Homo sapiens: one gene and its partner. The protein of the gene in region 1 purifies or fractionates together with the protein of each later gene. This does not show direct contact. Each region holds a gene or a part of one and is shown on either strand. Other genes may lie near its edges.

Region 1 (7,691 bases):
CAGAAATCTGGGAAAAGGAAGTTTTGAATGAGGATGCTAGAGTCTGAGCAATTCCAAATGAGGAAGCTTCTTTGTTTATATGTACTTCTACAGGAGAACTGTCCTGTTGACTTACCAACTCACTAGATTTGACGTGATAGCTTGAACCAGTCATGGAGCAAACATTTGGTGTGCCAAAATGAGGAGTCAACTGGGTCTCATTACCATGTGATACCACCATGCTATCCAGTGTGGATCTCTGAAAATCAAACTGCCAAGGATGTGGCTCTTCTTGGCCTCTGGAAACATCTGTTCCATAACCAGAAGAAAATGATTCCCAGTGTTCAGAAGAAACATTATGGCCATGAATGGCTGATACACTATTTGCTTCCATGGAAATCATTTCAAAGTCTCTGTCAGAAGAACTGAATGATTTCCTGCTTCGATGAAAGTCAGACCAGAAAGAATGTCCTTTCTCTTGGCCCCAAAAAGGACCTTGTCCAAATCTCCTCTGTTCTCCGCTTCGTCCAAAGGTATTGCTGAAGAAAGATCTGGTAAATGTGTTGCTTTGATGGTAGAATGGCATGTTCTCTGAGTTCTCAAAAGTGTCGGGACTCATTGCATTCTCCATGGGAGCATTTAAACTAACACGTTGGTAAACATTCTGTGAATGGTACGATTCATATCTCTTATTCTCCTGAAAACCCCTGGGATACACATACTTGTCAGCGGGATCAATTTCCATTGGTGATGGTGCCCTCAGGAACTCTTCCTGGTTCTCCCTGTCTCTAGAGGAATCTGATCTGTTCCATATGATGGATGATAAAGGAGTTCTCTTTGGACTCTGCTGGTGCCTTGGTGGTATAAACCCACTCTTGCTCTGAGTTGTGGCTGGAAAATGTAAGCTTCTTGCTGTGAAATGCCCTGTGGCTGGTAAGGCCGACCGTTGCCTGCTGTCAAAACACAGCGAAGTACTGCCAAAAGTATTCTTTTGCACATAATCTTCTTTAAAGACTCTGGGCTCCCTTGTCCTATACATATCATAAATTGTGCTTGTCCTAGGAGAAAAGGTTTTAAAACCTTCCCTAGGAGTTCCTGGTCTTAGGATGTCATAGATAGACATATTGGAAGTTTCATTATAGTGTTTTTTGTGCCTTTCTGTGATATTACCATGTCTGTTACCACTGGAATAAAAGTGACCGAACTGTGTTCTTGATCCATAGTTGAGGGGTGTTCTGGTATTCACTGAGCTTGCAGACTGTTCCTGAGCCAATTTGCTATCCAAGTCATCTAAAACTGAAAAGAGAATGTGAATCAACCTTTTTCTGTATGTTTTTACAGTTTAATAATAATTTGAGTTATTGAAGGCTCCTTTTCAAGAAACATAATCATTTATAATTTTATTTTTATCATATTATCATGTTATAACATTAATTTTGATTATATTTTTAAGATAGCCTGACTTTTATAAGACTATAGTGAAAATTTCTTTCCTACTTTTTCAAATCACTTTTTTTCAAAGTAAACCTTCCATTAACGCCGTAAGGAAATTGAACTATATTCTTCTAACAATGAATTTTAATCATGTTTTTTTTTAGTGCATCTAAAGTGTATTGAGTTTTTCTAAGATATGGACCAGTAATAAAATGGAATTAATAATGCAGACATTGAATAACTAGACAATTGTTAGTATTATTAAGCCTTGTCTTTCTGTTTCTTTCATGTCACTAGGTTGCTACAATAATTCCAGCTGTGTATACCTCCTGGGATCATAATAGAAATGAACCTCTGTAAGTAGCATATGATTTCTAGGTTGTACTGTTAAGAAAACAGTATTACCACTAAAAGCTTAGCACCTAATTTATGAACATACTTAGTTGGATATATAATATTATTAAATGATATGCCAATGGTAGATTTTTTTTTCTGGAAAAATTAATACCCATTAACACTCCTATAAAACAGCACTTTCTATGTGTCAGGCAGAGTCCTAAACGCTTAATATATTAACTCACTAAGTCGTCACACAAACTTAGAAGGTTGGTCCTATTACTATTCTCATTCTATAATGAGGAAACTGATGCAAGAAGAGATTAAGCAAATTCCTAAGATCACACAGCACTGGGATTTGAACCCAGACAGTCTGTTTCCTGAATCCATGCATACAACCACTGTACAATGCAACCTCTGTGCCATAAAAGCTCACTTTTGGGCCGGGCACGGTGGCTCATGCCTGTAATCCCAGCACTTTGGGAGGCCGAGGCGGGCGGATCACGAGGTCAGGAGATTGAGACCATCCTGGCTAACATGGTGAAACCCCGTCTCCACTAAAAATACAAAAAATTAGCCGGGCGTGGTGGCGGGCGCCTGTAGTCTCAGCTACTCGGGAGGCTGAGGCAGGAGAATGGCGTGAACCCGGGAGGCAGAGCTTGCAGTGAGCCAAGATGGCGCCACTGCACTCCAGCCTGGGCGAAAGAGCGAGACTCCGTCTCAAAAAAAAAAAAAAAAAACCAGAAAAAAAAACTCACTTTTCATATTTTGCTCTTTATGAACCATACAGATGATTTTACTGTGAGACGAGCTCATAGTTTTACAAAGACGTGAAGTTGCTGTTGTCAAATAATGATGACTTTTCTCTCGGTAGCAAAGTCAGGGAGTGGTGTCAAAGTCAGTGCCCAGGGGCCCCCTTACGATAACTGAAGACCTAGACCAAGCCCAGACCCAGGGCTCATGCTCTCTAGGACCACAGCCTCTGTGATCTTAGACAAGCCACAGCATCCTTTTGGTGACACAGTTGGCTTTTCTTTGAATTGTATCCATTTAATTGTACTTGACATGTTTTCCTCAATAAAAACCCATTAGATTTTGAATAGAATCATAATCTTTTGAGGTGTGTAGACTCTCTAAGACCCACTCTATAATAGATATAGTTTACTATATTCATGTTCAATAAATACAAATAAATTACAAATTTTATTTCAACTGTATAATGACAGGAAATGTAAGTGTCTGAGCACACATAAGTGAAATGTACATGCAACATGCCAATTAAGTTAGGGCAGATGCTAAAGGGATTTAAAAAAATCTGTTCTGGATTTTTCCCTATCCTATTTTATTTGCAAGTTGGTGTTATTAAGTTTGTACAACCAAAAGAAAAACTGATCTTGAACATTAAGGATATGTAATTAAGGAATTCTTTTAGGGAATTATCTGTGAATGTTTTAGTGAAAAATATTTATTTACCCCTAGGACCTGAAGTAATTTGTTCCCTATAGCCACAATAAAATAATCAAGCAATGCTGAAGTATAAGGTGGGGCAAAAAACAAAACAAAACAACTGCATAATGAATAAAAATCTATCTTTAAAACAAATTATAATGAAAATCTCTTTGATACCCATTCTCCCTTTCAAGCTGTTTATGTTTTTCTTTCCCCTTAAAGTCTTGGTTGACTACAAGAGCAGAATGTATTTAGAACAGAAAATACAGAAAAGTATAACAATATAAGTAAAATCGCCAGGAATTCTACCTAGAGGTAACCATTCTTAACATCCCCATGACAAGATTTTAAATTAAAGCCACTTAGAATCCCAGATTAACAATGCTGTTTACTCATCACTCCTGACATCAGAAAAATTCCTGTTCTGCTTCTCTACATTAGTTTCAGAAAGGCCACATTATTATTATTTTTTCATTATTTTTTCATTCCATAAACAGTAGCTCTCCTCTTTCAACAAAACCTTCATTTTGGAACAAAGATTTTCCTCTGTTCTCTGCCAGGAAGCATCTTACTGAAGAAGGCCCCTACGTTGACTGTCCAGCTGACTGTCTCTACCCGACTGCTGTCCCACACAATATGGGCCAGGCGATGGTATTGCCTTTGCAAACTAAATGAAGTTCCTCAAAGTGAAGCTGGTGGCGACTTCAGAGTTAACTTTTCAAATGGCCGGGCTTATATAGAATAACCTTTGTAAAAGTAAACTATGATCATATAATAAGATACATGTGCATTTGGAACGCCACTGCTTTTGGAACCTGTCTCAGTTTTTATCATCATACAAGGTTAATTGTCTAATGTCAATTAGATTTTATCACAGTGCATTTGGGTCCTAATCTGGAACAATAAAAGTCTATTAAACAGCAAACTTTGTAGATGTATTTCCTAAAGATGTATTTCCTTTTTACCTGAGGTTAATTTTTTTTTTCTGCTTGCTCTGTCACCCAGGCTGGAGTGCAGTGGCATGATCTCGGCTCATTGCAACCTCCGCCTCCCAGGTTCAAGCACTTCTCCTGCCTCAGCCTCCCAAGTAGCTGAGATTACAGGTGCGTGCCACCATGCCTAGCTAATTTTTGTATTTTCAGTAGAGATGGGGTCTCAAACTCCTGACCCCTAAGGTTAAATATTAAACATTATTACTACTCCATATATTTATCAGTCCATGATTCAAGAATATTTGCTTAGATTATATTTAATCATAAGATTCTTAATACTTGTGTTAATAACATATCAGCATCCTCTTCAAATAAGCTAAACATGAGGATGTAAAAAATAAAGTACAGTGTTTCATATGTTTTGAGTAGTTTGATACAAACTAGTTATTGTTTACTTCCTTTAGTTATCAGTAGTTGCAAAGGCAATTTAATGCATGAACTTACCTTGGAAAAACTCATTCTCCAGCAGTGAAGCATCCCACGGTGGAGGCATGCCACTCTCCTCCCTCATGACTGCTGGCTTTGGGACAAATGTACTGTCAACTAGATGATTTTCCAGAGGTGAATTGTATATTTTTGCCTGCTAATTTTAAAGCAGAGAACACAATATTATTTCTGAGCCTTCACCAGTCAAAATACTCACACGCTCCCACCAAACTGTCCCAAGCTTAAAAGTATTAGTCTAAGGACTGCAAATCCATTTTTCTAATATTTATTTCTCAATTTATAATGTGTTGTTTTTGCCATTTGTAACTGACCTGCAACTTCTCTATACCTACATTAATTATTTCAGTGATAAGCCTTCAGGCAAGGTACTGAGCCTCTCTCTGCCAAGTTTCCTACGAACTTACACAGCACTGTCAGAGGCGTTTGAATCAGGGCAACTCCATCTCGAATAGGGGCTGGGTAAAATAAGGCTGAGACCTACTGGGCTGCATTCCCAGCCGGTTAAGGCATTCTAAGTCACAGGATGAGACTGGAGGTCGGCACGAGGTACAGGTCATAAAGATCTTGCTGATAAAACACGTTGCACTAACGAAGCCGGCTAAAACCCACCAATACCAAGATGGCAACAAGACTGACCTCTCTGGTCGTCCTAACTGCTACACTCCTGCCAGCACCATGACAGTTTCAAATGGCATGGCAACATCAGGAAGTTACTCTATATGGGCTAAAAAGGGGAGGCATGAATAACCCACCCCTTGTTTAGCATAATACCATCAAAAAATAATCATAAAAATGGGCAACCAGCAACCCTTGGGGCTGCTCTATGAAGTAGCCATTCTTTTATTCCTTTACTTTCTTAATAAACTTGCTTTCACTTTACGGACTCGCCCTGAATTCTTTCTTGTGCGAGATCCAAGAACCCTCTCTTGGGGTCTGGATCCAGTATTACTTTTCTGGTAATATCTTCCTGGCGACCACGGAAGGGCCAATACTAAGGAAACCTTCCAACCAAAGGCTAACTTTGGGTAAGTGGTGGGGTGTGGTAACAGCATTACACAGATCTTAGTGGGGGTTCCTTGCAGAGAGGAAAGAAATCGACCCCTCTTGAGTTTGGAGTGCTGTCTCCATGGCTCCAATGGCTTGGATTTTGGATTTCCTAACGTTGTACCTATTTTTTCAAGACCCTGTTAGCTAGAACTCGTAGTGGACCTTAAGATTTGTGAACTTGGCCGCGTGCAGTGGCGCACACCTGTAATCCCCGCACTTTGAGAGGCTGAGGTAGGCAGATCACTTGAGGCCAGGAGTTCGAAACCAGCCTGGCCAAAATGGTGAAACCACTGTCTCTACTAAAAATACAAAAATTAGCTGGGTGTGGTGGCGAGTGCCTGTAATCCCAGCTACTCCAGAGGCTGGGCCAGGAGAATAGCTTGAACTCGGAAGGCGGAAGTTGTAGTGAGCTAAAATCATGCCACTGCACACCAGCCTGGGCGACAGAGTGAGACTCTGTCTTGGAAAAAAAGAAAAAAAGAAAAAAAAACCCACAAAAAACCAAAAATACAAAAATTAGCTGGACATGGTGGCAGATGTCTGTAATCCCAGCTACCTGGGAGGGCTGAGGCAGGAGAATCGCTTGAACCCGGGAGGCGGAGGTTGTAGTGAGCTAAGATCGTGCCACTGCACTCCAGGCTGGGAGACAGAGGGAGACTCTGTCTCAAAAAAAAAAAAAAAAAAAAAAAAAAATTGCGAACCTGAGGATTTAGGGGGAAAAATGTGTTTCTATTAGAGGTCATCTAGAATAGGGGTCCCTGACCCCTGGGCCACAGACCGGTACTGGTCTGTGGTATGTTAGAAATCAGGCTGCACAGTGTGGGGTAAAGGGCGAGCATTACCGCCTGAGCTCCGCCTCCAGTCAGATCAGCCCTGGGATTAGGCGTTAGATTCTCACAGGATTGCGAACCCTATTGTGAACTGCACATGCGAGGGATCTAGGTTGTGCTTTCCTTATGAGAATCCAACTAATGCCTGATGATCAGAGGTGGAACAGTTTCATTCCCAAACCATCCACCACCACTTTCTGTGGAAAAGTTCTTTTCCACGAAGTGGGTCCCTGGTGCCAAAAACGGTGGGGACTGCTGATCTAGAATGGTAGAACCCCTCAGATGCCCATAATAAGCTGATCTGGTAGTTCTGCAACAAAGGCACTCAAAAGTTTGATTGTATAAATAATAAATGGCTTTAAAAAAACCTATTGCTAGTTTTTCAATGAAAGGATTTAGGAGAATGATATAGAACTAAATTTGTTTTCCTTTATTATTGTTTTATTTATTCATTTATTTATTTATTTATTTTGAGGCGGAGTCTCCCTCTGTGGCCCAGGCTGGAGTGCAGTGGCGCGATCTGGGCTCTGCACCATCCACCTCCCTGGCTCAAGCAATTCCCCTGCCTCAGCCTCCCGAGTAGCTGGGATTACAGGCGCACGCCACCATGCCTGGCTAATTTTTTTGTATTTTTAGTAGAGATGGGGTTCCACCCTATTGGCCAGACAGGTCTTGAACTCCTGACCTCAGGCAATCCTCCTGCCTCAGCCCCCCAAAGTGCTGGGATTACAGGCATGAGCCACCTCGCCCAGCTATTATTATTATCTTTGTTTACTAACAAATGTTTATCTTTATTTCATAAAATCTAATCACTGCCCTACTTTCAAGCTTTTGTCTTCATAACCTTGCAAACATTATCCACCCCATGCCTTCACTTTCTTGTGCCAAAACTCCATTTGCGTTTCCTCTGTCAAACTGGCTCTGTCACTCATGACTCCACTTTAGCTCATCCTGCACTCATCCACTTCCCTTTCCAGTCTTTATTTTCAGCTCACTCTGCTACCCAGTCCTTGCCTCTTGAATCCCTCTCCCCACCTCAAAATTTCCCTTTCTATTTGACCTTCACCACTATGTTTTGTCTCATCTTTCATGCCTAAGACCACATGTCGATCCTTTCCAAAGCTCCAACTTCTTAATTTCTCCATAACAGGTCTGTCTGATTCCACGGCGCTGGTTC
Region 2 (7,691 bases), on another chromosome or scaffold:
AGCCTGGCCAATATGGTACCAGAAACCCCATCTCTACTAAAAATACAAAAATTAGCCGGGCATGATGGTGGACTCCTGTAGTCCCAGCTACTTGGGAGGCTGAGGTAGGAGAATCGCTTGAACCCGGGAGGTGGAGGTTGCAGTGAGCCGAGATTGTGCCACTGCACTCCAGCCTGGGTGACAGTGTGAGACTCTGTCTCAAAAAAAAAAAAGAAAAGAAATGAAAAAAGAAATTTCCTCGCTCAACATGGAGGATTTCTTTACCCCAGGAGTCTCCTATTTGCATCTTGGAAAGAAGGCCTTACATACTTAAGGCGCCTCTGAGACAACTCAAAGTTGTCTCTCTGCAAATGCCAAGAGTTTGAGAAAATGGGACCAAAGCACTGAAGGAGGCCCTTGCCACATGCATTGTCAATGGATCCTACTATCATATCATATAAAAAGGACACATTCAACATGCCCCAAGGCCTATGGCTGAGGTTTTGCTTTAATTGTCCACTTTTATCTTTTTCATTACCATTCACCTGCTAATGTTTATATTGAAAATGTTTTCTCTAGACTTCTCCACAAAAATACTCACCCATATTTCTCTGCGAGTGCTATGGCTTCCTCCTCTTTCACTACTCTCTGGTCCTCCAGATCACTCTTGTTTCCACACAGCACTATATCTGGGTTTTCACAATATGCATGCATCTGTAGCTGGCCTATTAATATAAGAAAGTTTATTATATATGTAAATAATAATGTAAGTGTATGATCAGTGAACAATACATGCAAAAGTGCTTTGAAGACTATAATGTATATATAGATATTGGGAATTGACATAATGCTTTCAAAGCATCAGTAATCTTATCTGTAAAGCTGAATAGTTGGGGCAGAAATATAAAACCATTCTTAAGCACATACCCCAGTTTATTGATATCGGAGAGTTTATAGGAGAATGTGCTACCTCTCAAGTGTGAGGGCCCACATGTGCACACGCACACATATGCACACACACACATACAAAACACCTTTCTTTTTTATGAAGGCTATTTGAAAAGAAAGTTGCAGGAGTTCCTAGGGTTTACTGCTAATCTTAAAACTGTTTTTATGTGTTTTTTTCTCCATAGCAATGACATTTCTAAAAGAATTGTTTTTCTCCAAACTAATCTATTTCTATCCAAAATGTTTTTCACATTTTTCTATTATCCTAGGGCAGAATCAACTCATTTAAAACAAACAAGATACAGGCTTCAATGAGAAGAAAAGACCCAGAATAAACAGTAAGTGATTCTGTCACCAGAGCCAAGTGGAAGCAGAGGACTATAATTCTTATTCCGCAGCTTTTATTTCACCTGAAAACCTGCAAATAGGCACAATTATAAAAAGCAATTGACTCAAACCAAAGAGCTTCACTAAGCTAAATAGTTTAATCTTTCAAAGTAGGAAAATAACACCTCATTTCTTACCCATCACACCCCAGAATAAAATTAAGGCCTAAACGTTCACAGTAAGACATACTTCAGAGTTTATGGCCTAATTTATTTTTTCATCATGGTTAACCAGAAAAGTGTGGACATTTTAGTTCCTCATTATGAAGTAGTGTTCATCATATCTTATCATGAGAAAGTCAAGTAGGCAGGTGTTTACTGAGCATTAGCACAGGCCTGATACTCTGCATGGAATTTCACAACAGTTCTTTGCCCTCATGGGGCAACTGGGGTAATAAGACCTACAGAGGACAGACTAAACTGTGTACCATTTCATGAAAAGCCATGCCCTTTCTTTCCTCCAGGTTGTTACACATGCTGTTCCCACATCACTGAATACTTAACCACAACCTTCCTTCAAGACTTGCTTCATGGTTACCTCATTATCTTTCTGGTCTCCAGAGTGGCTCTGTGCTCTGTTAATGCCTTATAAGGTGTTATAGGTCCATGCCCAGTGTCATGCTATGAGCACAGACTCAGGATCCAGTGTACCTAGGGATGAATCCTGGCTCTGCCATTTACTAGCTGTGTGACCCTGATGAAGTTATTTGACTGCCTCAATTTCCCCATCTGTAAATGGTGATAATGATACTACTTACTTTATACAGTCAAGGTAAGGATTAAAATGAATTAATCCAGTGATTCTGCAGGTAAAGACTGTGAGCCACCAGCCTTAGCATAACCTAAGAATTTGTTGACATGCAAGTCTCAGGTCCCACTCCAGCTCTACTGAATCAGGAATGCTGGAAATGGGGCTAGAAATCTGTGTTTTAAAAAGTCCTCCAGGTGACTGAGATGCACATTCACATTTGAGAACTACTAAGTTAATATATTAAAGCATTTAGAAGAGCATGTAAGTATCACCAGTAATTATGGTTAACAGTATTTATTTTGGGTAGTCTAGGAAGTGTGATTATTGGTGATTTCTTCTTTTTGTCTCATTTTTCCTAATTTTTCTACTAAGATTGTGCTTATCTAAAAAGCAAATTAATCAGTTATTTTAAAAACTTCACTAAGAAAAAAGTCACCTACATAAACAACTACAGTCTGATAATGGATGTAATAAGGACCCTATACACAGTATAAAATGTAACAGGGGTTAAAAGGAGGGAAAACATCTAACACAACTAAGTTTATTACAGAGAATCTCACAGAGGCCATCTTTGCTAGGTTTTAAAGAATAAGCAGAACTCCAGTTGGTTAAAAAATGGGGGCAGGTGTGGAAAGGGTTTTTCAGACAGAGAGAATAATGGGAATAAAAAATAAAGAAGTAAAAATATGTAAAATATATACTGTTGGGTTTTTGCACCACTTATGGGACTCTACAGAAGAAAGTTTAGAAATGTAGGCTACTTTAAAGTTTCCTTAGGAAACACACTAGCACTGGATGAAGAGTGACTCTGGGCATGACGTGCTTACTCCTCTGAACTCCAGGAAGACAGGACAGTGACTACCACACTACCAAATTCCTTTCAGATTTCAATCCAGGCCCAGAGGACTCAGCCTCTGTTCTGTCTCCTCATCTGAGTGGGGCTTACTTTAGACTTTTATCACCCTTCTCAAGAGGGCATGGAGAGATTGAGTGAGAGGGAGGGGTCTGCAAGGAGCAAAGGGAAAGGGGAGGGTATATAGACCTGCTCTCCTCTCCCAGGCCAATCAGGGCCCACGAGTCAGCTACTTCTTTAATGCAACACTGTGTTCTGGCACTCACCACTGATTTTTATGTATTTGTGTGTGTGTGTGTGTGTGTGTGTGAGTGTGTATTTGTGTGTATTAAGCTATTATTTTTATTAAAAAATAAGAAATGGGCCGGGCACTGTGGCTCACGCCTGTAATCCCAGCACTTTGGGAGGCTGAGGCGCGTGGATCACCTGAGGTCAGGAGTTGGATGAAACCCCGGGAGATGGGTGAAACCCCATCTCTACAAAAATACAAAAATTAGCTGGGGGTGTTGGTGTGCGCCTGTAATCCCAGCTACTCGGGAGGCTGAGGCAGGAGAATTGCTTGAACCCAGGAGGCAGAGGTTGCAGTGAGCCGAGACTGCACCATTGCACTCCAGCAAGGGCAACAAGAGTAGAAACTCCATCTCAAAAAAAAAAAAAAAAGATAAGAAATGAATGATCATTGTAATACTCAAAAGGCTGACAGGAAGAAGAAAAAAATAAAAGTACAGATAATTAACAAATGTTTATTCCTAATTAAGATTTGATATTACCACTTCTGACACTGAACATTACACCTTTTTGTTTAAATGGTAGGGGGTGGAGAATACTTTCTATTAAATATATAAAATCTTCAATACGTATAAGTGTTCTTTACCTAACTGAGCAATAAGGATTCTTTTACTCTCTAAGGAAAACAAAACAAAATACATACATATGTATACATATTTTCACATAATTTTGTTCTTTATCCAACTAGTTAGCCAGGATAGGCAATATTTATCTAATGTCTCAGAGTTTTAGTGTCTACCTATGAAAAACAGGTGCGTTATTTTTTGATGCTAAGATTCTATGCGCACTCTCTAGTGATCCTTATAAAATAGTTGATTTTAAAAAGCCCCAGAACTTGTTCTGATGATGCAAAGGAGGGATGATGAACACGGGCTGAGAGTAAGAGACCATAAACAGCCACTGTCATTCAGCTACAAGGGAAATAATGAGGCAACTTAGCCAGGCATCTAGCGAAGTGAAGCCCCAGTAAGCATTACTATATTTGGGGAACTCATATTTAAAGTAATTAATAGCTCTTCAACTCTTAGTGGCCAACTGACTTGAGAACGGGCAAAAAAAAGGCCATTAAAAAGGAAAGCCAAAGCTTCATATCCTTGGATAAGTCTATTACTTTTTAAGGCTCAATGTCCTTCTCCTGAAATAAGGACACAACACTGACCCGAATCTTTGCCCAGGGTGATTGTGAGGATCAGATACAAAGTATGTGAAAACCACAGTGCACTAAATTATTTTTAAACTCATTTTTAATCTAAGCTTTTCTACTATCAAAACTACAGCCAATTACCCTTTCATAATCCCAAAACAGTAATGTTTAAGTAGCAGATCTTTTTAAATCAGTGTTTTAAAGATTTAGATGTTAAGAATTTAATATTACAGCCTTCCCTAATAGATTCTCTAGGGTTACACTAACATGACCAAACAGGGAAAATATACATTTGAAAGCTGTTATGCAGTCAAGTGGCAGAATTCGAAATGGCTATGAACCAATCATTTAGGAGGTTAAAATCTCTCCAAAATAAAGGTTGACATATATTGCACTGGTGACCACTTTTACCAATGCAGTTGTAGAGTTTTCCATGGCAGAATCCTCCTGAAAGATGCTCTAACCCTAAAAGCTAGAAGGGGACTCTAAGCACAGAAAAGACATGAAGCCAGGGGTATGATCCATTAAGTCTTTAAAAGCTATCTGCATCTATGTAATACCCATTTAATGTCCAGAGATGATAGAAGAATTGATAGCATACAATAGACAAGCAGATACTTAGAGATTTAACTTCTCTAGGCTTCTACTTCCTCATCTACGAAATGGGAATAAGAGTCTCTTCTGTGGGATAGACTGAAGAGGAGAGCACACATAAAGTGCTGCCTTGCACCTGGAGCACAGGAAGTACTCAACAAATCAAAGTTATCAGTACCAGGGAGAAGCAGAGTATTTCAATTATCTTTGTCCCTAAACTAAAAACCTTGCTCCTTAAAATAGTATTTGCACTAAGATCTCCTCCAAAACGATTTGTCACAGAAGTAGAGCATAAGAGGGCATTCTATAAATAAGAGGGGACTGTGTAGCAGGACACTGGGGAACAATAACACTTACTTATCCAGTTTCTGACATTGAGGAAACTTTGCTCATTTGTCAGATCAAAAAGTAGAAGAAAACCCATAGCATCTCTGAAGAACGCTGTCGTTAAGCTACGAAACCTAGGAACATAAAAGCAGAATGGTCAGTTAAACCACGGCCCCACTCCTGAAATATAAAACTACAAGCAATGCCTTCAGCCTCTTACAAAAGTTTACCAATAACAAGCTACATGGTGATATTTCAAAAGTATATAGGATAGTTATTTATCACTTATATCAGTTTAAGTGTTAACAGACCATGTGATTTGAAAACCGAGGCTGCTGGAGAGGGATGACAAGAACCAGCTTGTGATCTTAGTCTCACCCAAGAATTTATGTACAATTATGAGTTAATTTGGCCAAAAGCAATATAGTGTATGTTTTCCTATTGTGAAAGCTTGACTTGACATTACAATGTGTTCCATGATCTTTTAATTTCAGAATATGCAGAGATCTCTTATCTCTGATAGCCATTTGTTTGGCTTGAAGGTAAGAATCTCTTGACTCAGACCTTATTCTGTCTTGGTACTCTGCCTTCCAAGGCTTTATCCTTCTGTCTTCCCTGTCTTCTCTCTCTCTCTCCCCACCCCCAACCCCACCCTATCACCAGTCAGTTTCCTCTCGTCTTTGCCTATATGTAAAACCTGTAACTGACAGGCAGGCTCCAGGGAAGAAAATATTGGTATGAATTTGTCATCTAATCAGCAATATTAGGTTTTTCTCAAATACTTTTAATCAATGTTTTTATTAAAAAGAGTTCTTGGCCAGGGGCCATGGCTCACACCTGTAATCCCAGCACTTTGGGAGGTCAAGGCAGGCAGATCACCTGAAGTCAGGAGTTAGAGACCAGCCTGACCAACATGGAGAAACCCCAACTCTACTAAAAATACAAAATTAGCTGTGTGTAGTGGTGCACATCTGTAATCCCAGCTAATCGGGAGGCTGAGGCAGGAGAATCACTTGAACCAGCAAGGTAGAGGTTGCGGTGAGCTGAGATCACGTCAGCCTGGGCAACAAGAATGAAACTCCGCCCAAAAAAAAAACAAAAAAGAGCTCTTATCTTTTAGAGCTACATTACCACAAGTATTAAAAATGAAATAATATAGTGTCTGGAATTTGCTTCTAAATTATATGGTAAGGGGGTGGGGTGAGAAGAGGTAAGGGGTATAAATGAAATTCTGTTGGCCACAATTTCATAATTGTTGAAGCTGAGTAATGGGTACATAGGTTTATCATATAATCCTTCCACTTTTGAATATCCTTGAAGTTTTCCATAATAAAAAGTTAAAAAACAAAATCCTTCAAGGTGGCTGTGAAAGAAAACAGAAGTTCTAGCTAACTGAAAGCAACTTTATATCAAGATTTCATGTGGCTTATTTTGGTCAAGTAACCCCTGGTCACATGAATTAATTCCAACCAGATATCCCACTAGATTTCAACAGTCAGGTAAGAATAATGCATGTAACTTGGCCACTTTCTTGTGGTTGAGTAAATAGCAAAAGGAAATGGAGCAAAGTATCTAAGCAAAAAAAAATTAAAAGAAGGAAAAGAAAAAAGTCCACAAGTAAGAGTCATAACCTCTCCCTTGACCTTGTATGAAATAAGGCCACCATTCTCATCTCAGACTTGACAAATTTCCTGCTAATTTGGCAGCATTCAAGTGCAAACCAACGAATTGGCTGGCTTTTTCCTGCTCAGGTCACTGTTTGAAGAATGTAACTATTTTTCCCTTTCCTTCAGTAAGGAGCACATAACTGAAGATCTCATACCTCTCCTGCCCTGCTGTGTCCCATAACTGCAGGTGGATTCTCTGGCCTCTGCCAGTGGCTCCATCCGGCCCACTGGCTCTGTACACCTAAAACAGCAAAGTGAAAGAGAAAACAAAAGAGAACTTCTAACACCAGCGAACCTTCTCACCTTTTTGTTCAGTACAAATCCCAAAGGCATCTAAAATTCCAAAGAGAATGCCATCTGGAATACAACCATGTTTGTATTTATGTCAAATAATTATATCCAGGTAATGTAATAAGTTATATTGAAATATATACATATATATCTTATAAATATATTGTAAAATATGAATACAAAACAACTTGTATAAAATATAATAATTAGTTTACCTTTCCTCAAAGTTCTCTTGGGTCACTAGTTTCAGGAAATATTACTTTTCTATGGCTTTTCCCAATCTCATCTTTTTTGTTTGTTTAACCAGGGGGTACATGTGCAGGCTTGTTACGTAGATAGATTGCATAATGCTGGGGTTTGAGCATCTATTGAATTCATCACCCAAACAGTGAATGTAGTACCCAATAAGTAGTTTTTCAGCCCCTCTCCCACTCCCTTCCCCCTTTTGGAGTCCCTAGTGTCT

Evidence for each region.
Region 2: the proteins of EXPH5 (region 1) and RAB27A purify together in Homo sapiens (affinity purification with western blotting; 2 studies listed by BioGRID and IntAct, with this or other methods). This does not show direct contact.

Annotation. Positions count from the first base shown.
Region 1 is NC_000011.10:108,513,601-108,521,291, forward strand, and holds part of EXPH5 (exophilin-5), read right to left. Parts: intron 4,774-7,691; coding exon 4,635-4,773; intron 4,124-4,634; exon of another isoform or gene 3,759-4,123; intron 1,770-3,758; exon of another isoform or gene 1,711-1,769; intron 1,276-1,710; coding exon 1-1,275. UniProt on the Homo sapiens protein: May act as Rab effector protein and play a role in vesicle trafficking.
Region 2 is NC_000015.10:55,223,309-55,230,999, forward strand, and holds part of RAB27A (ras-related protein Rab-27A), read right to left. Parts: intron 7,179-7,691; coding exon 7,093-7,178; intron 5,405-7,092; coding exon 5,301-5,404; intron 705-5,300; coding exon 581-704; intron 1-580. UniProt on the Homo sapiens protein: Small GTPase which cycles between active GTP-bound and inactive GDP-bound states. In its active state, binds to a variety of effector proteins to regulate homeostasis of late endocytic pathway, including endosomal positioning, maturation and secretion.